Linked DNA regions of Homo sapiens: all the other regions are linked to region 1. Evidence: fine-mapped expression QTL. Tissue or cell type: whole blood. Region 1 holds a variant in brackets; each other region holds the start of a gene. All regions are shown on one strand. Distances are between the middles of the regions.

The links. PIP is the estimated chance that this variant, and not a neighbour inherited with it, causes the effect.
Region 2: it holds the start of SHFL, and the variant in region 1 is fine-mapped to the expression of SHFL in whole blood (TOPMed, PIP 0.98).
Region 3: PPAN starts here. The variant in region 1 is fine-mapped to the expression of PPAN in whole blood (TOPMed, PIP above 0.99).

The regions. Positions count from the first base shown.
Region 1 is chr19:10,178,129-10,186,228 of GRCh38, reverse strand. It overlaps DNMT1 (DNA methyltransferase 1), which reads left to right. Exons shown (of 41, transcript NM_001130823.3): 2 at 4,152-4,188; 3 at 5,344-5,451; 4 at 5,660-5,879; 5 at 5,995-6,042. Among named protein-coding and RNA genes, the nearest start is that of DNMT1, 13 kb to the left of the region's middle. RefSeq lists an enhancer at 1,794-2,294. The variant T/C (reference allele first, on the strand shown) is at 4,933.
Region 2 is chr19:10,081,634-10,089,733 of GRCh38, reverse strand. SHFL (shiftless antiviral inhibitor of ribosomal frameshifting) reads right to left here and starts at 3,417. Exons shown (of 8, transcript NM_018381.4): 1 at 3,286-3,417; 2 at 2,682-2,805; 3 at 2,434-2,483; 4 at 39-77. The coding sequence starts at 3,306. RefSeq lists silencers at 3,149-3,428, 3,499-3,718.
Region 3 is chr19:10,102,809-10,110,908 of GRCh38, reverse strand. It overlaps PPAN (peter pan homolog), which reads right to left and starts at 4,547. Exons shown (of 12, transcript NM_020230.7): 1 at 4,497-4,547; 2 at 4,238-4,408; 3 at 3,303-3,404; 4 at 3,055-3,105; 5 at 2,775-2,945; 6 at 1,202-1,278; 7 at 889-996; 8 at 663-786; 9 at 507-585; 10 at 295-424; 11 at 43-212. The coding sequence starts at 4,514. It overlaps PPAN-P2RY11 (PPAN-P2RY11 readthrough), which reads right to left and starts at 4,547. Exons shown (of 13, transcript NM_001198690.2): 1 at 4,497-4,547; 2 at 4,238-4,408; 3 at 3,303-3,404; 4 at 3,055-3,105; 5 at 2,775-2,945; 6 at 1,202-1,278; 7 at 889-996; 8 at 663-786; 9 at 507-585; 10 at 295-424; 11 at 43-212. The coding sequence starts at 4,514. SNORD105 (small nucleolar RNA, C/D box 105) reads right to left here and starts at 3,258; the gene lies at 3,174-3,258. SNORD105B (small nucleolar RNA, C/D box 105B) reads right to left here and starts at 1,160; the gene lies at 1,069-1,160. It also overlaps a transcript of ANGPTL6 not described here. RefSeq lists enhancers at 842-1,423, 2,335-2,978, 4,621-4,670, 4,267-4,910, 8,052-8,100 and a silencer at 4,351-4,400.

The DNA.
Region 1 (8,100 bases):
CTCTTTGCCAGGCTAAATATCCCAGTTCATATGAGGGGTTGAAAGAAAGCAGACCCATTCTGCAAGGACACCTTGGTCTCCGCAATCAGTTGAACCTTGTCCTTCACACCCCAGGCAACCTCGGGATCAGGGGACTGGCTGGCTTGGTCGAGGTAGAAGCCATGTCCTTCCAGTTTTCTCAGCGGCGTGACTGAGAAGTCAAGTGTAACGCTATTACCACAGCGTGTGTGCCTCTGGCTGGAAGTACCAGTTTCTGTAGCCCTCCTGACTTAAGGCTCTCCTTGGACCCCAGTTGCTACAAGGGTAGAATGACTTTTGCCTGGAAGAGGTTCCTTGTGCTCCTGGAAATCCTGATGTCAAAGCATCTTTTTTTTTTTTTTTTTTTCTTTTGAGACAGGGTCTTGTTCTGTTGCCCAGGCTGAACAGGCTGGATTGCAGTGGTACCATCATAACTCACTGCAGCCTCAACCTCCCAGGCTCAAGCGATCCTCCCACCTCAGCCTCCCAAGTAGCTGGTACCACAGGTGCACACTAACCACACCCAGCTAATTTTTACATTTTTTTTGTAGAGATGGGATCTCTCAGTGTAGCCCAGGCTGGTCTCAAACTCCTGACCTCAAGTGATCCTCCTGCCTTGGCCTCCCAAGGTGCTGGGATTACAGGCATGAGCCACTGCGTCTTGCCTGGCCTTGTAGCACCTTGAGTCCAAGTGATACAGTATATATAATATACAGTCTATATTACCACTGTGTTTGTAGGGTGCTAAGTGTCTCTTCTACAGAGCAGTCTTTTTTTTTTTTTTTTGAGACAGAGTTTTGCTCTGTTGCCCAGGCTGGAGTGCAGTGGCATGATCTTGGCTCACTGCAAGCTTCACCTCCCGGGTTCACGCCATTCTTCTGCCTCAGCCTCCTGAGTAGCTGGGACTACAGGCGCCCACCACCACGCCTGGCTAATTTTTTGTATTTTTAGTAGAGGCGGGGTTTCACTGTGTTAGCCAGGATGGTCTCCATCTCCTGACCTCATGATCCGCCCACCTCAGCCTTCCAAAGTGCTGGGATTACAGGCGTGAGCCACCGTGCCCGGCCCTACAGAATGGTCTTTCCTAACCACACAGCAAGTCAGGAAGTCCCTGCCTAGTGACACCTACATCTAATCACTTAGCTCTTTGCCTGGAGCAGGGCCTGGCATTCAGCAGGTGCTCATATGTGAGCGGCGCTGGTGGGGAATCAGGGCCCGCATGACCCAGAGCAGCTGTTGTAAGACATGGGTCCAGCAAAGCATTCCTCATGCTGCTGCCTGCACTTACCCTCTAGGAAGGCCAGCCTGGAGGAGCCACTTCTGCCCTTCAGGCAAATGATAACTGAGCACCTGTCTGTGCGGGTGCTAGGTGGAAAGGTCCAGAGATGGCAGTGGCCTGGTCCCTGCCTGGGGCACCTTCTCTCCACCAACAGACACTTACCCAGCTGGTTAGGCCTGTTCTCACCCCGCAGTCTGTAGTTAGCACCCAGGCTGGGAACAACAGCCTGTGTTCCTCTCCCTTTCCTTGGTACCTTCTCTTCTTGTTCCTTTATTTTTTTCTGAAGAGATAGGATCGCCCTATGTTGTCCAGGCTGGACTCGAACTCCTGCCCACAAGCCATCCTCCCACCACAGCCTCCTGAGTAGCTGGGGTTACAGGCACGCAGCACCGCGGCACTGCACCGGCTATTGTTCTTTTATTTTTTTCCCTCTTTGTCCCTGAAAGAGTCAAGCTACTAATTGTCAGTAATCAAATCAGACCACGATTTCCCAGGCAAACTCCTGGCAGTTCTACATTTAGGAATGACTAGCTAGAGACATCCTGAAGAATGAGTTATTCGGGGAGGCGCCAGCCACCTCCTCTAACTTCACCTCTATCTGCCCTCTGTGTGGGTACCCCTTGCTTCCCTGGATGCTTGACTCCCCCATTTCATCCTCAAAATGCCACCACCCCCCACCAGGCCTTTAGGAACATCAGCTGGCTGTTCCCCACAGTGTCCTGTGGCCCTGGGCTACTCATTCTGACACTGGCCATACTGTGGCACACCTTGTTATGGGCTGTTGTCAGACCCAACTGGAGAAAGACCAGCTGTAGGTCATTTCCCTTACGGGAGTGCCCCAACTATATGACCTGCCCCCTCTTTCCTGGTATCTTTTTGAGTCAGGGTCTCACTCTGTCTCCTAGATTGGAGTGCAGTGATGCAATCACGGCTCACTGTGGCCTCGACCTCCCAGGCTCAGGTGATCTTCCTTCCTCAGCCTCCCAAGTAACTGGGACCACAAGCACATGCCACCAAACCCAGTTATTTTTATTTTATTTTATTTTATTTTATTTTGAGACAGAGTTTCACTCTTGTTGCCCAGGCTAGAGTGCAATGGTGTGACCAGCTCACTGCAACCTCTGCCTCCCGGGTTCAAGTGATTCTCCTGCCTCAGCCTCCCAAGTTGCTGGGATTACAGCCACCCACCACCACGCCTGGCTAATTTTTGTATTTTTAGTAGAGATGGGGTTTCGCCATGTTGGCCAGGCTGGTCTCAAACCCTTGACCTCAGGTAATCCACCCACCTTGGCCCTCAGGTAATCCACCCAACTGCTGCTGTATGTTGGGATTCCAGGCATCAGCCACCACGCCCAGCCACTAATTTTTGTATTTTTGTAGAGATGGAGTTTCGCCATGTTTCCCAGGCTGGTCTGAACGCCTGGGCTCAAGTGATCCGCTCGCCTTGGCCTCCCAAAGTGCTGGGATTATAAGCGTGAGCCACCATGCCTGGTCTCTGGTACCTTTTAAAATATACAGGCTGGGCATGATGGCTCATGCCTGTAATCCCAGCACTTTGGGAGGCTGAGGCAGGTGGATCGCCTGAGGTCGGGAGTTCGAAACCAGCCTGACCAACACGGAGAAACCCTGTCTCTGCTAAAAATATAAAATTAGCTGGGTGTGGTGGTGCATGCCTGTAATCCCAGCTACTCGGGAGGCTGAGCCAGGAGAATCGCTTGAACCTGGGAGTCGGAGGTTGAGCTGAGATCACACCATTGCACTCCAGCCTGGGCAACAAGAGCAAAACCCTATCTCAAAAAAAAAAAATATATATATATATACACACGTATATATACGTGTATATATATATACACACACATATGTATACATATATACGTATGTATACACATATATACGTATATATACACATATATATGTATATATACACACATATACGTGTATATATATACGTGTATATATATATGCATGCCAGACATGGTGACTCATGCCTGTAATCCTAGCACTTCAGGAGACTGAGGCAGGCGGATCACTTGAGGTCAGGAATCTAAGACCAGCTTAACCAACATGGTGAAACCCTGTCTCTACTCAAAATACAAAAAATTAACGAGGCTGGTGGCACCTATAATCCCAGCTACTTGGGAGGCTGAGGTGAGAGAATCACTTGAACCCAGAAGGTGAGGGTTGCAGTGAGCTGAGATCGCACCACTGCACTCCAGCCTGGGCAACAGAGCGAGACTCCATGTCTGTCTGTCTGTCTATCTATCTGTATAATGTATATGTATGTATGTATATATGTGTGTGTATATATATACACATATATACATACATATATACACACATACTCTGTTACAGAGCTGCTGTGTGTGTGTGTATATATATATACACATATGTATATATACACATATACACATATATATGTATATATATACACACATATATATACACATATATATGTATATATATACACACATATATATACACATATATATGTATATATATACACACATATATATACACATATATATGTATATATATACACATATATATGTATATATATACACACACACACACATACACATAATTGTGTTACAGAGCTGCTATGTAATCTCACAATCATCAGAAAAATGACCCCCAAAAGGGGAACCTTGTTCAGATCAGATGACTTCTTAGCATTAGGCATTCCAGTAGGACACTCTAGACTCTTGCGGGGAGACAAAAGCCAGCTTAGTTTTTTCTAACACTCATATGTTAAACTTGTTTGTGTCCAAAACTTCTTTAGAACTGTGATATTCTTACAGGCAAATGAAGTTGCTTAACAAGTGTTTGTATTTTCTCCCCTATTTCTTCCTCCCAGGCTCAAAGATTTGGAAAGAGACAGCTTAACAGAAAAGGTAATCTCCACCTTAAAATTTTTCTTATTACCAAATCTGACTGACACACTTTGTGGCTCATAAAAAGAAATTTGTTTTCTTTAAATGGATTTTGCATTTTTTCCCATGGAGTTTCAAAGATAATTTGGATATTCTTGTTAAATGTCAGCACTAATTTGCTGCTAATAGTTGGGTGGTGGTGGTGTTTTTTTTTGTTGTTGTTTTTGTTTTTTGAGACAGAGTCTCACTCTGTCACCCAGGCTAGAGTGCAATGGCATGATCTCGGCTCACTGTGACCTCTGCCTCCCGGATTCAAGCTGTTCTCCTGCCTCAGCCTCCCAAGTAGCTGGGACTACAGGCACGCACCACCATGCCCAGCTAATTTTTATATTATTAGTAGAGATGGGGTTTCACCATGTTGGCCAGACTGGTCTTGAACGCCTGCTCGTGATCTGCCCACCTTGGCCTCCCAAAGTGCTGGAATTACAGGCGTGAGCCACCATGCCTGGCCCAGGTTTTTTTTTTTTTTAACCAATCTCAGTTCCTAAACAATCTACTCTGGATTGTAACTTGTCCTGGTAACACTGTTTTATTGTGTTTTTGTTATTGTTTTGAGATAGGGTCTCATTCTGTAGCCCAGGCTGGAGTGCAGTGGCACAATTTTGGCTCACTGCAACCTTCGCCTCCCAGGCTCAAGTGATTTTCCCACTCAGCCTCCTGAGTAGCTCTAACTACAGGCTCAAGCCACCATGCCCAGCTAATTTT[T/C]AAATATTTTTTGTAAAGATGGGATTTTGTCATGTTGCCCCAGGCTGGTCTTGAACTCTGGGGCTCAAAGCAATCCACTTGCCTCGGCCTCCCAAAGTGCTGGGATTATAGGTGTGAGCCACTGTGCCTGGCCGACACTTTACAGAAGCACAGTATTATTCTTATAAACCATGATATGTCTCCATCTCACCTCCAGCTTTCCCATTTTTCACCACTTTGGAGACAGGAGTGAAGTGATCCTAATGGAAATTCCCTGAACACATTTCATGACTGTTTAGTGTTTTGACTGAGACAGCATTGCCTGCCATTCACTCATTGTGATGTGATCAGGCAGCTCAATAATTTGTGTATTAGTCCACTAGTGAATAGCTTGGGAATGTGGGTACTGCTAAACCTATATCCTTCCCTTAGGAATGTGTGAAGGAGAAATTGAATCTCTTGCACGAATTTCTGCAAACAGAAATAAAGAATCAGTTATGTGACTTGGAAACCAAATTACGTAAAGAAGAATTATCCGAGGTAAGTCAGTTCTCAGCATCCTAGCCTCTAGAAAAATGTCTCCTCCTAGTAACTTGTCTGTGACCAGGGAGGCAGCAAGATCCCCAGCTGTCCTCATTGCCTGATGATGATGATGATGATGATGATGATGAAGGAAACACATGTGTTTCCTTGTTCTCTGACACTTGTTTACATTCACTGCTACTTAAATTATCCTTTCCTGCTGTAGGAGGGCTACCTGGCTAAAGTCAAATCCCTTTTAAATAAAGATTTGTCCTTGGAGAACGGTGCTCATGCTTACAACCGGGAAGTGAATGGACGTCTAGAAAACGGGAACCAAGCAAGAAGTGAAGCCCGTAGAGTGGGAATGGCAGATGCCAACAGCCCCCCCAAACCCCTTTCCAAACCTCGCACGCCCAGGAGGAGCAAGTCCGATGGAGAGGCTAAGCGTAAGAGCAGATGATTCCTTTTATTTTTAATTGTTTTTGAGATGGAGTCTCACTGTGTTGCCCAGTCTGGAGCACAGTGGTGTAACCTCGGCTCACTGTAACCTCTGCCTCCCAGGTTCAAGAGACCCTCCTGCCTCAGCCTCCCAAGTAACTGGGATTAGAGGTATGTGCCACCACACCCAGCTAATTTTTGTATTTAGTAGAGATGGGGTCTTACCATGTTGGCCAGGCTGGTCCAGAACTCCTGACCTCAAGTAATCCACCTGCCTTGGCCTCCCAAAGTGCTGGGATTACAGGCATAAGCCACCACGCCTGGCCCTGCTTAACTCTCTTTCTTTCTTTCTTTTTTTTTTTTTTTTAATGACAGAGTCTTGCTCTATCGCCCAGGATAGAGTGCAATGGCGCGATCTCGGCTCACTGCAACCTCCGCCTCCCAGTTTCAAGCGATTCTCCTGCCTCAGCCTCCCAAGTAGCTAGTATTACAGGCGGGCACCACCATGCCCAGCTAATCTTTGTATTTTTAGTAGAGATGGGGTTTCACCATGTTGGCCAGACTGGTCTGGAACTCCTGACCTCAAGTGGTCCTCCCGCCTTAGCTTCCCAAAGTGCTGGGATTACAGGTGTGAGCCACCGTGCCCGGCCCCACTTGGCTCATTTTCAACCTAGAAGCAGGCTTTGGTAGCATATAAGGGGGCAGTTAAACTTGGACCCCAGGTCAGTGTGTCCAGGTTCCTTTCTTTTGTACGCATCCTCACTAGTAATTACTGGACACTTCCTAACTAGCTTAGATGTGTACGTCTTTAAATTTTGTCTTAGCTGGGGGTGTGGTGGCTCATGCCTGTAATCCCTGCACTTTGGGTGGCCAAGGTGGCTGGATCACCTGAGGTCAGGAGTTCGAGACCACCCTGCCCAACATGGCAAAACCCTGTCTCTACTGAAAATACAAAAAATTTGCCAGACGTGGTGGCGGGTGTCTGTAATTCCAGCCTGGGCAACAAGAGTAAGACACTGTCTCAAAAAAAAAAAAATGTTGTTTTCGACCAAGTTGCAGCATTAGATCCCAAAACATGGCTATGAGTGTGACAGGTTGCAGATGACAAGTGCTACAAATACTTACTCCTTCTAAGACCTTATATGCCTGGTTAAACATTTATTCTCAGACTCTTGCCCAGTTTTAGGCAAAGGAACTCTAATGGAAATTTTTTTTTTTTTTTTTTTTTTTTGAGATGGAGTCTTGTTGTCTCCCAGGCTGAAGTGCAGTGGCGCAATCTCGGCTCACTGCAAGCTCTGCCTCCCAGGTTCATGCCATTCTTTTGCCTCAGCCTCCCGAGTAGCTGGGACTACAGGCGCCCGCCACCATGCCCGGCTAATTTTTTTTGTATTTTTTAGTAGAGACGGGATTTCACCATATTAGCCAGGATGATTTCGATCTCCTGACCTCATGATCCGCCCGCCTCGGCCTCCCAAAGTGCTGGGATTACAGGCGTGAGCCACCGCGCCCAGCCTCTTCTGGAATTTTTTAAAAAACAAACAATAGGATAGTACTTGAGCTCAGGTCTGGTTCTCAGCTACTTCATTTTTATTTTGTTTTATTTTATTATTATTTTTGAGAGAGAATCTCGCTCTGTTGCCCAGTGGCACGATCTCGGCTCACTGCAAGCTCCACCTCCCAGGTTCATGCCATTCTCCTGCCTCAGCCTCCCAAGTAGCTGGGACTACAGGCGCACACCACGCCTGGATAATTTTTTGTATTTTTAGTAGGATGGGGTTTCACTGTGTTAGCCAGGATGGTCTCAATATCCCGACCTCGTGATCCACCTGCCTCGGCCTCCCAAAGTGTTGGGATTACAGGCGTGAGCCACCATGCCCAGCCTTATTTTATTTTCTTTTAATTTTTATTTTATTTTTTGAGATGGAGGCATGCGCCACCACGCCCAGTTAATTTTTGTATTTTTAGTAGAGACAGGGTTTCACCATGTTGGCCAAGGTGGTCTCGAACTCCTGACCTCAGGTGATCCACCTGCCTTGGCCTCCCAAAGTGCTGAGATTACAGGTGTAAGCCACCTCACCTGGCCCTTTATTTTATTTTTTTTTGAGATGGAGTCTTACTCTGTTGCCAGGCTGGAGTGCAGTGGCACAATCTCGGCTCACCACAACCTCCACCTCCTGGGTTCAAGTGATTTTTTTGCCTCAGCCTCCTGAGGAGCTGGGACTACAGGCA
Region 2 (8,100 bases), 96 kb after region 1:
CCCAACTCCCCCATCCCAAGCCCTAGCCACCAACTCACCTGAATGTCCCGGTCCTGCTTCATATCTTCTGGTGGATCCTGGGTGGAGATAGCAGGGGCAGAAACTGGGGATGGGGCTCAGGCCTCTTTCCACCCGTTTGCTGGGGGAGGCCCCCGGCCGCAATGAGTAGGGTGCCCCTAACTCGCCAGAAGCTCACAGAGCACCACTCACTTATTGAGAGCCAGGTGTGTGGCCTCAGTTGTCCTCATAGCAGCCCTGAGAGGTGGGCACACCTGTTACCTTATTGCTCAGATGGGGAAACTGAGGCTTAGGGGAGGGCTTGCCTGAGTGAGGCTAGCCTGACCCCCATACTCACTTCCTGCCTGCAAATGCCACATGCTTGTTGATGTTGTGACATATCGCCCCTTTGAGGCCACGTTGTGCTCGGCTAAGTGGGAGAGAGATGTGGGTTCAAATCCCAGCTGTATCACTTCCAGCTGTGGGGACTTGGGCAAGCCACTCCCTGCCCCCTGGGTTCCCACTGACAGGCATGTTAGAGCCCAGGCTCTGACTCCAGGTGGCCAGGGTTCAAATCGCAGCTGCCCCTGCTTGCTGGCAAGTGACTTCGGCCTCAGTTTCTTTGTCTGTGAAATGGGGATAAATAATAGGACCTGTCTCCTGGGGTCACTGCAGTGATGAAATAAATAAATTCCTGGAATCTTGCCATGTGGGAAGTACTCAATGAATGCTACTCTCTGCTAATATTATTATTATTATTATTATTATTATTATTATTATTATATTTTTGAGACGGAGTTTCGCTCTTGTCTCCCAGGCTAGAGTGCAATGGCACAATCTTGGCTGACTGCAACCTCTGCCTCCCAGGTTCAAGTGATTCTTCTGCCTTAGCCTGCCAAGTAGCTGGGATTACAAGCATGCACTGCCACGCCCAGCTAATTTTTTGTATTTTTAATAGAGAAGGGGTTTCACCGTGTTGGCCAGGCTAATCTCGAACTCCTGACCTCAAGTGATCTGCCCGCCTCAACCTCCCAAAGTGCTGGAATTACAGGCGTGAGCCACCACACCTGGCCCCTCTGCTATCATTTTTATCATACTTTTATATGTATAAATGTAGACTATGATACATGTTTTGTTATACTCTGGTTTTGTTTGTTTTTGTTTGTTTGAGACGGAGAATCGCTCTGTTGCCCAGGCTGGAGTGCAGTGGTGCGATCTCGGCTCACTGCAAGCTCCGCCTCCCGGGTTCACGCCATTCTCCTGCCTCAGCCTCCTGAGTAGCTGGGACTACAGGGGCCTGCCAGCACAACTGGCTAATTTTTTTTTTCGTATTTTTAGTATAGATGGGGTTTCACCATGTTAGCCAGGATGGTCTCGATCTCCTGACCTCATGATCCGCCCGCCTTGGCCTCCCAAAGTGCTGGGATTACAGGCGTGAGCCACCGCGCCCGGCATTTTTTTTTTTTTTTTTTTTTTGAGACAGAGTTTCGCTCTTGTTGCCCAGGCTGGAGTGCAATGGTGTGATCTCAGCTCACTGCAACCTCCGCCTCCTGGGTTCAAGTGATTCTCCTGCCTCAGCCTCCCGAGTAGCTGGGATTACAGGCATGCGCCACCATGCCCAGCTAATTTTGTATTTTTTAGTAGAGACGGGTTTCTCCATGTTGGTCAGGCTGGTCTCAAACTCCCGACCTCAGGTGATCCGCCCGCCTCGGCCTCCCAAAATGTTGGGATTGCAGGCGTGAGCCACCGCGCCTGGCCTATTATACTCTTTAACAGCCCTACACTAAGCCTTTCAGGCAGGCTAAATCCACAGCGTTCCCATCACCAAAGCTGTCAAAGAAGCAAAGTAGCCATGATGCACCTGTGCTTCAAAGCCATTCATTCATTCATTCATTCATTCATTCATTCATTCATTCAACACAAGGGTTCCATTCCCCTGCCTCTCTCTCCTCCCCAATCCTCTGCTCATCCTAGCCTTTCTAGAGACTGCCACTAACAACCCTTCCCCACCTCCCAGCCTTTGCTTATGCCATTCCCTCCCCCACCCCAAGACCCCTGCCTTTCTTTCCCTTTCCCCTCCCAGGGCTCACTCCTCCCCATCCTTTAAGACTTGGTACCTCCTCCTCCAGTAAGCCTTCTCTGACCTCTGCGCCCCCGCTATGATGGCAATAATCCTGGCTCCTTTCATTGCTTAGTTTCATGGCTCTCTCCCCCATTGAATACAATCAGCACATAATGAGCGCCTACTGTTTGCAGGCTCCCTGGCCGGACAAATGATGGAGAGGTGAAAAAGTGAGATTGGGTGATGAGTTATGGACCGACAATGCCTGGTCCCTCCTGTTTCAGAGGGGGGTCAGTCACCATGAACGGGTCGGGTCCCCCCTCTTGCTCTCCCTCCCGTGACCCGGTCCTTTGCGAGGGGAGGGGATAGGTTACCTGGGCATCCAGATCGTTACTTAGTTCTTGGCCATCTTTTTGCTTTACCCCTGCGGGGGAGAGTGCATATAAGGGAAGGGCCCTTGAAGGGTCTGTGGGAGTTCCAGGCCACCCAGAGCCGCGACGCAGAGCCTCCCCAAGGCTGGGACCTCCGGGGGAGGTGATCTCAACGCCTCTCCCTAGACCACGCCCCCTCGGCGCTCCCACGCGCGGTCCCCGCACCAGGCCCGGGACCCCTGCAGCCTCACCGTACACGATGGAGCGCCCCACTCCCGTGTGGTCGCTGCCGAATTTCCTCATCAGAGCCCCCGCCTTCTTGGAGGATACCTTCCCATGAAACTTCTCCCGGAGGCGCCGGACGCTCTTCTCCAGCTGGGATGGAGACAGGGGGGTTCCGGTGGGGGAAGGGGAAACGGGATCATCCCTCCCCCATCTCTAGGCACCGTTCTCCCGGCCCGAACTTGACCCTTGGTTTTGGCCTCCGCCGCCCCCCCCCCGCCTTTCATCCCTTTACGGCATTTCCTGGAAAAAGCCAAAGTCCCCACAGGGCGTTGGGGGAAGGCGCGGACTGGGGCGAGCGTCCCAGCCTAAGGTGTGGGGGGGCGGCCAGGTTATCTCTGGCCTCTGACCTTTGACCCTGCAGCCCCCGCTTTTCCTCGGGGAGGCCTCATTTCGCTCTGGGGAAACGTGGGAGTCACTTTCCTTTTCAAGGGGGGCGAGCGCCAGGCAGGGGTAAGGATCTGGGGTTCTAGGATGGGGGTCCCCAGGAACTGCGAAGCCCCCTCCGCGCCTCCCGGCCGCTCCTCGGGGTCTGTCGCGGCTGACCCCGGCCCAGCCGTAGCCATCGCTTACCTCCACACCTTCCTGAGACATGGTGGCGGCGGCGCAGTTCCCCGCGAGGGTCCGCACTGCGCGGCTCAGCCGCCCCCCTACCTGGGTGCGCCCGTCGGTCCAGCAGCCGCGCAGGGCAGGGGGCGGTGCCTCGGGGCCGGCTCCGCCCTTCCTCCCCGGCCCCTGTTTCGCTTTCGATTCAGGGGGGACCCGGCGCGCTGGCTCCGCCCTGGCTCCGCCTCTGCTCTTGCGCCCCAAACCCAGGCGGGCGCCCCGGGTCTGCACCCTGCGGCGGAGCGCGCAGACCTCGGACGGGGGAGGCGGCGCGGCCTCTGCAGTCGGTCACATGTCCCCACGCTGCGCGGGGTCCGCGTCTTCACGTCCCTCGTGGGGGCGGGGCCGCATCAGAAGGCCGCGGCGAGGCCCCGCGCCCCCCCACCCAGCGCGCGCTCCCCCAGTTCATCACCCTCCTCTCTGTTCTCCCTCCTTCCCCGGGAATCTGGCGCTCATGAGGACCTGGGCCCTTTTCCTGCCCTGAGTCTCTGTCCTAGCTACGGTCACCTCTCTCAACCTCAGTTTACCCCTCTGTGAAATGGGGAGAATCCTGGTGTCTACACCATGGAGTGGAGTATGTGCCAAGATTCCCGAGTGGATCGCGTAATAGCGCCTGGCTTGCAGTAGGCGTTCAACTAGTCACTGGGCCACCTGCTGTGTGCCCTTGATAGGGGCAGGCAGTGTGTGTGTGGTTGGGGGGAGCGGTGCTTGAGAAAAATACAGATTCTTGGTCTCTAGTAGCCCGGTAGAATCCGGCTGTCTCAGGGATCCAGGGAATCTGCAATGGTTAAGAACCCCGTGGGACGGACAATTCTAACCCAGTACAGGGCACATCAGGGAGCCCTTAGGTGGTGGGGCTCTGGCCCAGCCTGGGGACACAGAGATGGCAACTTCATTGGAGGAGGGGATGCTTTGTAGAGTCACTGAAATTGGAGGTCTTAGCTAGGGGAGGAATAGAGTGGGGAGATGAGGCAGCCGTGCAGAGCCCCCAAAGCAAGACTAAGTCTGGGGTTTTTGGGCAATGGCTTCTCAAGCCCAGCACTCTTGACACTTTGGGCGGCCTAGTTCTTTGTGTGGGGGACTGTCCTGTGTATTGGGGGACATTTAACACCATCCCTGGCCTCCACCCACTAGATGCCAGTGGTTCCCTACTCTCCCTGTTGTGACTACCAAAAACGTCTCCAGAGACTGCCGGATACTCTCTGAGGAGCAAAATAGCATTGTGTTCAACGACTCCAAATTTTTTTCTCCATTGCACACCCCTATAGGTAAAAGTGTTAAAGTTACACCCCCAGATGGATATTTATTCATTTATTTATTTTTTGAGACAAGATCTTGCTCTGTTGCCCAGGCTGGAGTGCAGTGGTTTGATGGTGGCTCACTGCAGCCTCTAACTCCTGGGCTCAAACGATCCTCCTGCCTCAGCCTGCTAAGTAGCTGGGACTACTGGCATATGCCACTATGCCTGGTTAATTTTCTATTTTTTTTGTAGAGACGGGGTCTCACTATGTTGCCCAGGCTGGTCTCAAACTCCTGGCCTCAAAGATGGATATTATTTATAAATTATATACAAATACAATTATATCAATATATTCTGTTAACTGTTATATAAAATATTGATAGATAAATGGAGCTGGGCATGATGGTTCACACCTGTAATGCTAGCACTTTGGGAGGTCAAGGTGGGAGAATCACTGGAGGTCAGGAGTTCAAAACCAGCCTGGGCAACATAGCAAGACCTTGTCTTTAAAAAAAGAAAAAAGAAAAGGAAAAAGTTATTTTTAAAAGACTAAAAAACAAACAATAAAACCCCCCAAATCTAGATATTCTAAAGTTTTTCCAGTTGAACCCCAAAGCTTTGTTTATAGGGTGTATGTACTCCACTCTGGAGACTACTGTATTTGCAAACTACAAGCAGTTCATGATTCCTTGTGGCTGAATGGTGGAATCCTAGGCAGGATGGGGGCTGGAAACTGCACAGAAGACCTGGGATTTTATCCTGAGGGAAGTGGCGAGGTTTGGAGTGGATCGCCTGTCATAGTTGCCAGTTACTAATCTATTTGCCCAGTGCAGAGGGAGGTCATAGCTATGTCCCATTCACTGGCCGAGATGGGCACTGAGTGGGCAGGAAACAGGTAAGAGTCTGAGCTAGCCCTGACATAAATCAGATCTGGTAGGTTTTTTGTTTTTTGATTTTTTTTTTTAGCGCAGAATATGCAGACCAAAGGTCTGTTAGGTTATAATCACCGTGGCAACCACATAGAGCGTGTACTCTGTTCCCAATGCTGTTCCAGGCACTGTGGACATGACAGCAAACAAAACAAAGATCCCTGCCCTCGTAGAGCTAGCATTTTTTTAAATTTGTTTTAAGAGACGGGGTCTCACTCTGTCACCCAGGCTGGCGTGCAGTGGCACAATCATAGCTCCGCTGCAGCCTCAACCTCCTGAGCTCAAGCAATCCTCCGGCCTTGGCCTTCTGAGTAGCTGGGACTGCAGGTATGTGCCACCACATCCGGCTAATTTGTTTGTTATTTTGTTGTTGTTTTGTTTGGGTTTTGTTTTTGTTTTGAGACAGAGTCTTGCTCTGTCACCCAGGTTGCAGTGCAGTGGCACGATCTCGGCTCGCTGCAACCTCTGCCTCCCGGGTTCAGGCAATTCTCCTGCCTCAGCCTCCCGAGTAGTTGGGACTACATGCATGTGCCACCACTCCCGGCTAATTTTTATACTTTTTTGTAGAGCTGGGGGCGGGGGGGTCTCACTATGTTGCCCAGGCTGGTCTTGAACCCCTGGGCTTAAGTGATCCTGTTGCCTTGGCCTCCCAAAATGCTGGGATTTCAGGTGTGAGTCACTGCACCTGGTCCATCCTTATGATTTCATGTGGTCTTTGTAGCTTAGGACTTGAGAAATGGCTTTGCTGCTGGGCTGTTCTGGCTCAGGGCCTCTCAGAAGGTTGCAGTTAAGGAGTTGGTCAGGGCTTCAGTCATCTGAAGGTTTGACGGGGGCTGGCGAATCTGCTTCCAAGGTGGCTCACTCTCAGGGCATGCAGATGGGTGCTATGATTGGCGGGATGCCTCGATTCCTCCCAGTATACTTGAGTGGCATGAGTGTACTCCCAGCATGGGAGCTGGCCTCCCGAGCACCTTCCAAGAGCTGAGAGCCAGGTGGAAGTTGTATCTTTTTATGATCTAGCCTGAAAGTCCCACATCACTTCAGCCACATTATGTACATTAAAAGCTCATTGACTGGGCACAGTGGCTCATGCCTGTAATCTCGGCACTTGGGAAGCCAAGGCAGGAGGATCACTTGAGGCCAGGATTTCGAGGCCATGCTGGGCAACATAGTGAGACCCCATCAGCCAGGCGCGGTGGCTCACTCTTGTAACCCCAGCACTTTACGAGACCAAAGTAGGTGGATCACCTGAGGTCAGGAATTCGAGACCAGCCTGGCTAACATGGAAACCTCATCTCTACTAAAAATACAAAAATTAGCTGGGCGTGGTGGCGGGTACCTGTAATCCCAGCTATTTGGGAGGCTGAGGCAGGAAAATCACTTGAACCCAGGAGGCAGAGGTTGCAGTGAGCCAAGATTATGCCACTGCACTCCAGCCTGGGTGACAGAGCAAGACTCTGTCTCAAAACCAAAACGAAACAAAACAAAACAAAACAAAAAAAGCAGCAAATCTTGACCTGGAACTGGACCCTTGGAGGCTTAAGCTGGGCGACTGTGTTCAATTATGGAGGAAGGCCGGGTGCAGTGGCTCACACCTGTAATCCCAGCACTTTGGGAGGCCCAGGAGGGCAGATCACTTGAGGCCAAGAGTTCGAAACCAGCCTGGCCAACATGGCAAAATCCTGTCTACTAAAAATACAAAAAATAGCCAGGCATGGTGGTGTGTGCCTGTAGTCCCAGCTACTCGGGAGGCTGAGGTGGGGGAATCACTTGAACCCGGGAGGCAGAGGTTGCCGTGAGCCGAGATCGCACAACTACACTCCAGCCTGGGCAATAGAGTGAGACTCCATCTCAAAAAAAAAAAAAAATTGCTGGGCACGGTGGCTCACGCCTGTAATCCCAGCACCTTGGGAGGCTGAGAGCCCAAGGTGGGGATCACCTGAGGTCGGGAGTTCCAGACCAGCCTGACCAACATGGAGAAACCCTGTCTCTACTAAAAATACAAAATTAGCCAGGCATGGTGGCGCATGCCTGTAATCCTAGCTACTCGGGAGGCTGAGGCAGGAGAATTGCTTGAACCCAGGAGGCGGAGGTTGCGGTGAGCCGAGATCGTGCCATTGTACTCCAGCCTGGGCAACAAGAGCAAAACTCCATCTCAAAAAAAAAAAAAAAAAGAAAAGAAAAAAAATATTGTGGAGGAGATGGAGACCATTGGAGCATGTGCATGCTTTTCACAATCTAGTCAATTTCCCACTCCAGTTGAGTCAAATGAAAAATTGATCGGGAATGCTCAGAGCTGGAGAAGCTGTAGGGAAATGAGAAATCTCCCAAATCATTAGAGACAGCATCCGTTGGTGAAACCTTTTGGGAAGGACACCATGGAAAAATCTACTACTAAACTATTAAGCATGCTGGATTAATCATGTCTCTCATTTTCTGTTGCTGTCTTCTTCTTCTCTTTGTCCTTCTCCTTCCTCCTCCTCCTTCCTCCTCCTCCCTCCTCCTCCTTCTCTTCCTCCTCCTCCTCCTCTTATTCTTCTTCCTTTTTTTTGTTTTTGAGATGGAGTCTCGCTCTGTCGCCCAGGCTGGAGTGCAGTGGTGCGATCTCGGCTC
Region 3 (8,100 bases), 75 kb after region 1:
AGGACAGGCTCTGGGTGCCCTGCTGCAGACCCCACTCCATACCCTCACTGGGCGCCTCGCCCACCGCCTGGCAGAAATACTCGATGTCATCATCTTCCTGTTCATCATCGTCCTCACCCAACTCCAGGCTCGCCGTCCTTGAAGGGATCCCAGAGGCCTCTTCATCACTACCCCCGACCCGTGCCTTCTTCATGCCCTCCAGGCTCTTCTTTCTGGAGGAGGGCGTGGGGGTCAACATAGCCGCCCATCCCAGGGACCCCCCCTTGGCCCTGCCCTTCCCAGCTCTGCCTGGACCTGTGGGCCTCCCGCTGCTCCTGCTTGCGCTGCACATTCTGGGCCTGCTGGGCCTGCCTCTGCGCCTTCAGCCGCAGCTTCTTCTCCTTGGCTTCCAGGATGGCCTGCAGCTCCTCCTCCGTCTTGCTCACTGAGCCAAGAGACGCGGGTCACCAAGATCCGGGTGCAGCTCCACACCCATGACCCCCCACCCCCGGCGGCCCCGGCCTCACCAAAACTGTGGAACATCACTTTGCCCTCCCCGACGCCCTCCTGGACCTTGATGAGCTGCAGTGTCATCCGCGGGCCGATCTGAGGGGACGAGGAAGAAGCGTCAGCCCACCGTTGGGACTGGTGGAGCCCGGGGGTCCCCCTGCCCTGGGCCTCACCTCGGTGAGCCGCACTGCACTCTGCTGGGCCCGCATGTTGCCACGGCCAGCGACAGCCTGAGGCAGCTCTGTGATGTTGTGGTCGCCGTCAGGCTCTGCCTCGCTCTCCGACAGCCCCGCGCCCCTGTGTGTAGGACATAACAGGGCTCAGTGGGGGAGCTCAGGCTCCCGGTCCTGTTCTGGGGTCCCCGGGCCGCAGTGGCCTCCCGCCCTATGCCCTCCTCACGTGGCCAGCAGCTCGCTGATGTCCTGCAGGCGGCTCATGTTGGGGAACTTCTCCTGGAGCAGCTTCTTCATCCCGCGACTCGCGCCCACAGGAACAACTTTGATGCTACTGCAGGAACATGAGTGGACGGCAAGGGGGTGGTCAGGGGGCACGTGATGGGGCTGGCGGTGCCCATCTCACCCTTCCCACAGTGCGTCAGGGCGTTTACTTTGGACAGAGCAATCACAGCGTCTCAGCAGAAGTGCTGTCATCAGCCGCATGTGGAGGCCCCCACCCGGCACCCCCTCGTCTCCCATCCTGCTGGGACACTCACTAGTGGCGGAAGTCCAGCTCCTGGGAGTCGGGGTTGTAGTCGATGAGGAGGCAGCGCTTGATGGTGTTCAGGTTCACCTGGAAGGGGAGGAAGAGAGCATAGTCCAGTAGACTCATGGCAAAGTTTGGGGAAGTGGGGGCTTTGGGGGATACACACACTGTTCGTGGACTGTGGCACTGGCTAGAAATGCTGCTTCCAGCTCGCACCTGCAGTTTTAGCTACTCCAGAGGCTGAAGTGGTGGGACTGCCTGAGCCCAGGAGTTCAAAACCAGCCTGGGCAACACGGCGAGTCTCCATGTCTACAAAAAGTAGATGGAAAAATGAGTTGGATGTGGTGGTGCACGCCTGTAGTCTCAGCTACTCGGGAAGCGGAGGCTGCAGGATTGCTTGTGCCCAGGAGTTCAAGACCAACGTACGGAGACCCCGTCTCTTAAAAAAAAAGTAAAGAAGGCCGGGCACGGTGGCTCACGCCTGTAATCCCAGCACTTTGGGAGGCCGAGGCGGGCAGCTCACGAGGTCAGATCAAGACCACCCTGGCTAACACGGTGAAATCCTGTCTCTACTAAAAATACAAAAAATTAGCCGGGGTGTGGTGGCGGGCACCTGTAGTCCCAGCTACTCGGGAGGCTGAGGCAGGAGAATGGCGTGAACCTGGGAGGCGGAGCTTGCAATGAGATGAGATTGTGCCACCGCACTCCAGCCTGGGAGACAGAGCAAGACTCCGTCTCAAAAAAAAAAAAAAAAGGTAAACAAGAAATTCTGGTCCCAGAGCCGTATTAGCCTCCCTGATGACTGATATCTTATATATAATTTATAAGTCCCATCTGAGAGTCACTAGTGACAAGGATTAGGAGCTAGGACTCAGGAGCCAGATGAAATTAAAAATCCAGTCCTGCCCCCTGGAATCTAAACTTAGCATCTCTGCCAGCCTCAGATTTGCTTTTTTTTTTTTTTTTGAGACAGTGTCTCGCTTTGTCACCCAGGATGGAGTAGAGTGGCGTGAACACAACTCACTGCAGCCTTGACCTCCTGGGCTCAGGTGATCCTCCCACCTCAGCCTCCCCAGTAGCTGGTACTACAGGCATGCACCGCCACACCGGGCTTTTTAAAAATCTACTTTTTGTAGACATGGGGTCTCGCTATGTTGCACAGGCTGATCTCAAAGTCTTGGCTTCAAGCGATCCTCCCACCTCGCCCTCCCAAAGTACTGGGATTACAGGCCGAAGCCATAGCACTGGGCCCGCAGCTTCCCTCTGTAAAACAGGGCCCTAAGAAGAGATGCTACGATCCTGCTCAGCCCAGCACTCAACACACGTGGGAAACAGAGCTCCATCAGTATTTCTTTCCACCGGCTGGAAAAGGTGCAGCTCACGGGGTGTGGACCGCTGGGGGAATCTCTGGACACTTTTGCCCAGCATCATCAGACACAGGAGTGGGATTTGACCTCAGGACTCAGCAGACCCAGGAGCTCCCAGTCTCAGCGCTGGGAGGAGTGAGCAATCCATCTGAGGGCCTGTGGCACCTCTATCCGCTGCACCCCCCCATACCTGCCACCTCGCCAGGCCAGACCCACCTTGTGCACGTTGATGGAGGGGAACAGGTTCTGGAACATGGTGGCCATGAGCTTCACATGCATACCATGGGGGCCAAAGCTGTTGAGTACCAGGAGGGGTGGGTGGGCAAACTGCTGCTCGTGCATGCGGTGCCGGCGCAGTGAGGAGACCACATCACGCACCAGCGAGTACTGTAGGACAGGAGAGAGGAGGGGGTGACCACCAACCACACATGGCTGCGGACAACCCCAAGTCCAGCTCCCACCCCACATGGCTTTGTACCACCTCCACCCCTCTCACCTTCTTGACCTGGAAGGTCAAGGTGGGGCCTCCTGGGAGGCGCATCAGCTTCTGCAGGAGAAGAAAAGATCAGTGACTCTGGAGGGGTCTAGCAGAGGTGCCCGGAGTAGGCACCTTTGCCCCATCTCTTCTTCAGAGCGTTTACTTTGAAGCCAGAAATCACAGCAGCTCAGAGGCATATGTGTTCATCATGAGAGATAGGGGAAGGGGGGGTCTGGGGGAGATGAAGGGTGAGGGCGTCTACTCACAAAGTAGACATTGGTCTCTGTTTTGCTCAGGATCAGAAAGTGTGTGACCCCGAGGGGCCCAGCCACTGCCACGCAGTCCTTCAGCGAGTTCTTCTTACGAACCTGGAAATGACAAAAAGAAAAAAAGAAAACATAGCTTATCCCTTGTTGTGACAACTATAAGCTGACGGTGCAGATCCTGTTATGGTCTGTCTTGCATCTGACCCTTTCAACAAGCCCAGAGGAGCAAAAGGATCTTAGCCTTTAGAGTCAGTCGGACGCAGATTTGAGTTCTAACTCTGTCTCTTGCTCACAGCGCATCTTCCCATTGACAAATGAGCGAACTCAGGCCCAGAGAGGTTAAGTAACTTGCATCAGATACTGGGGAGAAGTCAGTTTCCAACCCTGCTTTGCTGCCTCCAGATTCTAGTCTTTTTTTTTCTAACACGGTCTCCTCCGGTCGCCCAGACTGGAGTGAAGTGGCACGATCCCGATTCACTACAGCCTTAATTTCCTGGGCTCAAGGAATCCTCCCACCTCAGCCTCCCGAGTAGCCGGGACTACAGGCACGCAACACCATATCCGACTAATTTTTCTATTTTTTGTAAAGACGGGGTTTCACCATGCTGCTCAGGCTGGTCTCGAATTCCTGGGCTCAAGTGATCCTCCCGCATCAGCATCCCCAAATGCTGGGAATACAGGCATGAGCCACCACGCCCGGCTCCAGATTCCAGTCTTAACTGTCAGGCTTAGGCGACTATCTATCTCCCAAGCTGCGCGCCCTCACTCCAGCCCAGCAAAAGCCCTGAAAGGCAGAAATGATGCTCCCCATGAGGGTCTTTTTTTCCAGCTGGGGAGACTTAAGTCCTCCCACAGTTTTACAGCGGGAGCCATTACTGCAGCTACGAAGACTAGGCCGAGGGTGGGTGGAGGCGGGCTGGGGGTGGGGTACAAACCTGCAGACGGCTGGCAGTGAGCGGCTCCATGACCCGCCGCACGTCCAGGCTGAGCTGCCGGATGTTGCGACCCGTGCAGCCTCGCGTGAACACGAACGAGTGCGGGTTCGCGGCATAGGCCTCGAGGTTGCGGAGCTGCGCCTGGGCGCGGGCGCGCTTCTGGTGCCGGGACTGCGGCGACGAGAGACAAAGGGTCAGCGCCGCGACCTCGGCCGGGACCCCACCTGCGCCACCTGCCTCCCAAGCTGCCGGGCCTTACCCTCCCTGACTGTCCCATGCTGCTGTGTCCTCCACGAGGCCTCCTGCGTCCGCCGCTTCCGGCGCTGCGCAGCTCACTTCCGGCGCCTGAGAGCCGGCACGGCGTGGGACGACATCAGGCGGGCCTGCGCACTAGGTGGCCTCTGGGAGCGGGGAGGGGCAATCAGATGGAGCGGTTGCTATGGAGACACGGGTGCCTGTTTCTAGGGAGACCGGGGCGGGGCTACGCGGCTCCGGGCTGCAGAGAAACGAATCCGCCGGTTCGAATCCCGCTTCGGCCCATTTCCTCCAGCTGGGCTAAAACCACTTTCTGCATTCCGAGGCTCCTAAAATATCCCAAAGTAAGGCTGATAATGTCCCCCGGGCCCACGAATTAGGAGCGACCATGTATGCACAATGTTGGGCGCTCTGGCGCCAAGTACTTGGGGAGAAGCCACCGGAGGGAATGACTGTGGCAATCATTCACTTTAGTCTCGCAACTCCTCTGGGCCAGCTGTCCTCCCCGGGTACCCCTGTCTGCAGACAGGCTGAGGGATGGAAACTCCACATCACCTTCTGGAAACTCAGGGCAAGGCGGGCGTTTCGTGAATAACTCGCCCCCTCCTTCTTTCCGCTCAAAGCCTCAGTCTTGGCCTCAGGCCTCTGGCTTCTTCCCCAAAACCTTGCAGTGGGGGAAAGGGACACCCCCTCACTGGGCTGAACATTACTCTCTCCTCCCCCATCGGCCTCCTCTCCCTCCTTGCTCTCTCTGGCACCCCAATTCTTCCTCCTCTCCCCCAGATGTGTCTCCCCTCCCCCTCGTCTTCCCCCTGTCTCTTTCTCCCTCTTGTAACTTTGTCTCTGTCATCAGTTGTCTCTTTCATCATTTATAACTGAAGATGGAAACTAAAGAAGTTTCCTTTCTCTGTGTCTGGCCCCATCCCTGTTTCTTTCTTCTCATCTGCCTCCCTGTGGTCTCTCCCCATCTTCCCATCTCTCTCTGTCTCTCCCCATCTCCCCGTCTCTCCCTTTCTCTGCCATCTCCCTATGTCTCTCCCATCTCCCTATGCCTCTCCCATCTCCATCTGTCTGACTCTCTGTATTCTTCAGCCCCTCTCTGTGACTTATGAAGTTCCCTCCCTCTCTACTGCCAATGGGGAAGCCAGAGGGGGCTGAGGGTGGGGGGCCGAGGGGCCCAGTGTGGGGGCCCCAACCCAGGCCCAGAGCCCAGCCTGGCAGCCTCTCTCAGATCTGGGACGACCATTTCCTTTTTCAACCCTGGAGTCCACTCGAGTTACTCGGGAGCTCAGGATGGTGCAGACCAGGGGAAGGAGGTGACTCTCCCGGCGTGTGGCTGGTCGTCGGTGGGGCCTTTGGACAGGTCTCAGACCCTGGGCCTGGGCTCTGTGGGGCTCTATGTGAGTTTCTTTGTACCCCTGGGAAATGACTGCATGGTTACTTCCCCCAGTTCCGTCCTCGTGTGATTTGACTTGTGTGAAAATGTGACCGAGTGTGTGGGAGACAGACGGTGACCTCTGTGGTGCGGTGGATAGGTTTCCGGGTGTCAACTGTGTGTACCTGTTTTGTATCTGTGCACTACTGTGTGATCACAAGAACCAGGATGTGGACAAGCCTGACACACAGATAAAGACCCACTCAGCCCACCCCATTTCCCTTTAAGTTGTGATGTGTGTGTGACCATATTTGGAACATACAGTTGTTGCCTGAAACTGTTATGTTTCCAGCTGTGTCTTTTTAAAAATTTTTTTTAATCAATGAGATATCCTTTATTTATGAAAGCATAGTTCCAATGCAGAAGTCAAGCTTTATGGTTATATATTAGGATAGGTTCAGATCCAATATGACAATGTTTAGCACTAACTTTAACATGTTAAAGCTCTGATTCCTGAATGTTTTTCTCACTTAATATATTCTCTCCAATGACAAGCTGGTGTGCTTGGCTTCTTATGCTGAAAAATATATGCCTGAATTCTATAACAAGCTATTAACAAAATCATGAATAGTTAATTAAATAAGTGCCAACACTACATGGAACTTACTGGCCACCAACTCAGAACCATAAAACTACACACACACACACACACACACACACACACCACACACACAAACAAAACAAAAAAAACACCAAAGAAAGATAGCTATCACTGTACATATGAATACTGTCCAGGATATCAGATCAATTATCAAATCCAAGGTCTCTGGTGTTTTGTCTCACAGTGTTGAATATATGAATGCTTCTCTATTATACTGACTTGTATTATTTTCAACAAATAATTATGTGGACTCAAAATCTTACATTTTTATTTCTTTTCTTTTTTTTTTTTTTTTTTTTGAGACAGAGTCTTACTCTGTCGCCCAGGCTGGAGTGCAGTGGCTCACTGCAACCTCCGCCCCCCGGGTTCAAGCGATTCTCCTGCCTCAGCCTCCTGAGTAGCTGGGATTACAGGCATGGGCCACCACACCCGGCAAATTTTTGTATTTTTAGTAGAGACGGGGTTTCACCATCTTGGCCAGGCTGGTCTCGAATTGCTGACCTCGTGATCTGCCCACCTTGGCCTCCCAAAGTGCTGGGATTACAGGCGTGAGCCACCGCGCCCAGCCTTACATTTTTATTTCTAATTATAAAATCCAGATTAATCCAAAAAACATAAATCACATGTAACTGAGGTAGGGTTTTCACTTTAAGAATATATTGTTTCTATCACAATTTAAAAATTTACAGCTGTGTCTTTTATATTTATTTTTTATTTTAATTAATTAATTCCTCACTTTATTATTATTTATTTATTATTTATTTATTTATTTATTTATTTATTTTTGAGATGGAATTTCAGTCTTGTCGCCCAGGCTGGAGTGCATGCGGTTGCTCGATCTCGGCTTACTGCAACCTCCACCTCCTGGCTTCAAGCAATTCTCCTGCCTCAGCCTCCCGCGTAGCTGGGATTACTGGCGCATGCCACCATGCCCAGCTAATTTTTGTATTGTTAGTAGAGACGGGGTTTTAGCATGTTGGCAAGGATGGTTTCGAACTCCTGACCTCAGGTAATCCACCTGCCCCGGCCTCCCAAAGTGCTGGCTTTCAGGCATGAGCCACTGCACCCAGACTTTCGCTGGGTGTTAATGTGTGCGTGCGTGCAAATGTGTGTGTGTGTGTTTGTGTCCACTCTGTTATGTGCCCATATGTGTGTGACAGCTGTGGTGTACATGTGTGAGTTTCTGAGTCAAGCTACCTTGGCTGGCTCCCATCCTGGTCTCTTTTTGGCTGTGTGACCGCAGGCAAGTTGCTTACCCTCTCTGAGCCTCAGTTTTCCCTGCTGTAAAATGAGGGTACATACAGAATCCAGCTCAGGTTGTAAGGATCAAATACGTAAAAGGTGTGGAGAGTTTAGAGCCAAGCCCTACACACGGTAAGTCCCCAGTGATGTTCCTCTTTCTATGTGTGGTGTGTGCGTGTCTGGGGCTGGGATCACGCCTGGCTGCCCCAGGGCCTGCAGCCTCCCACGCTCTGGGCTCTGCAGTGGAGGGTGTGGGGGAAAGGGAGGGATGTCCAGGACACTGACCTGTGTTATCAGGCTCTGGTGGCCTGGGCAGGGGGGTCTGGCAAT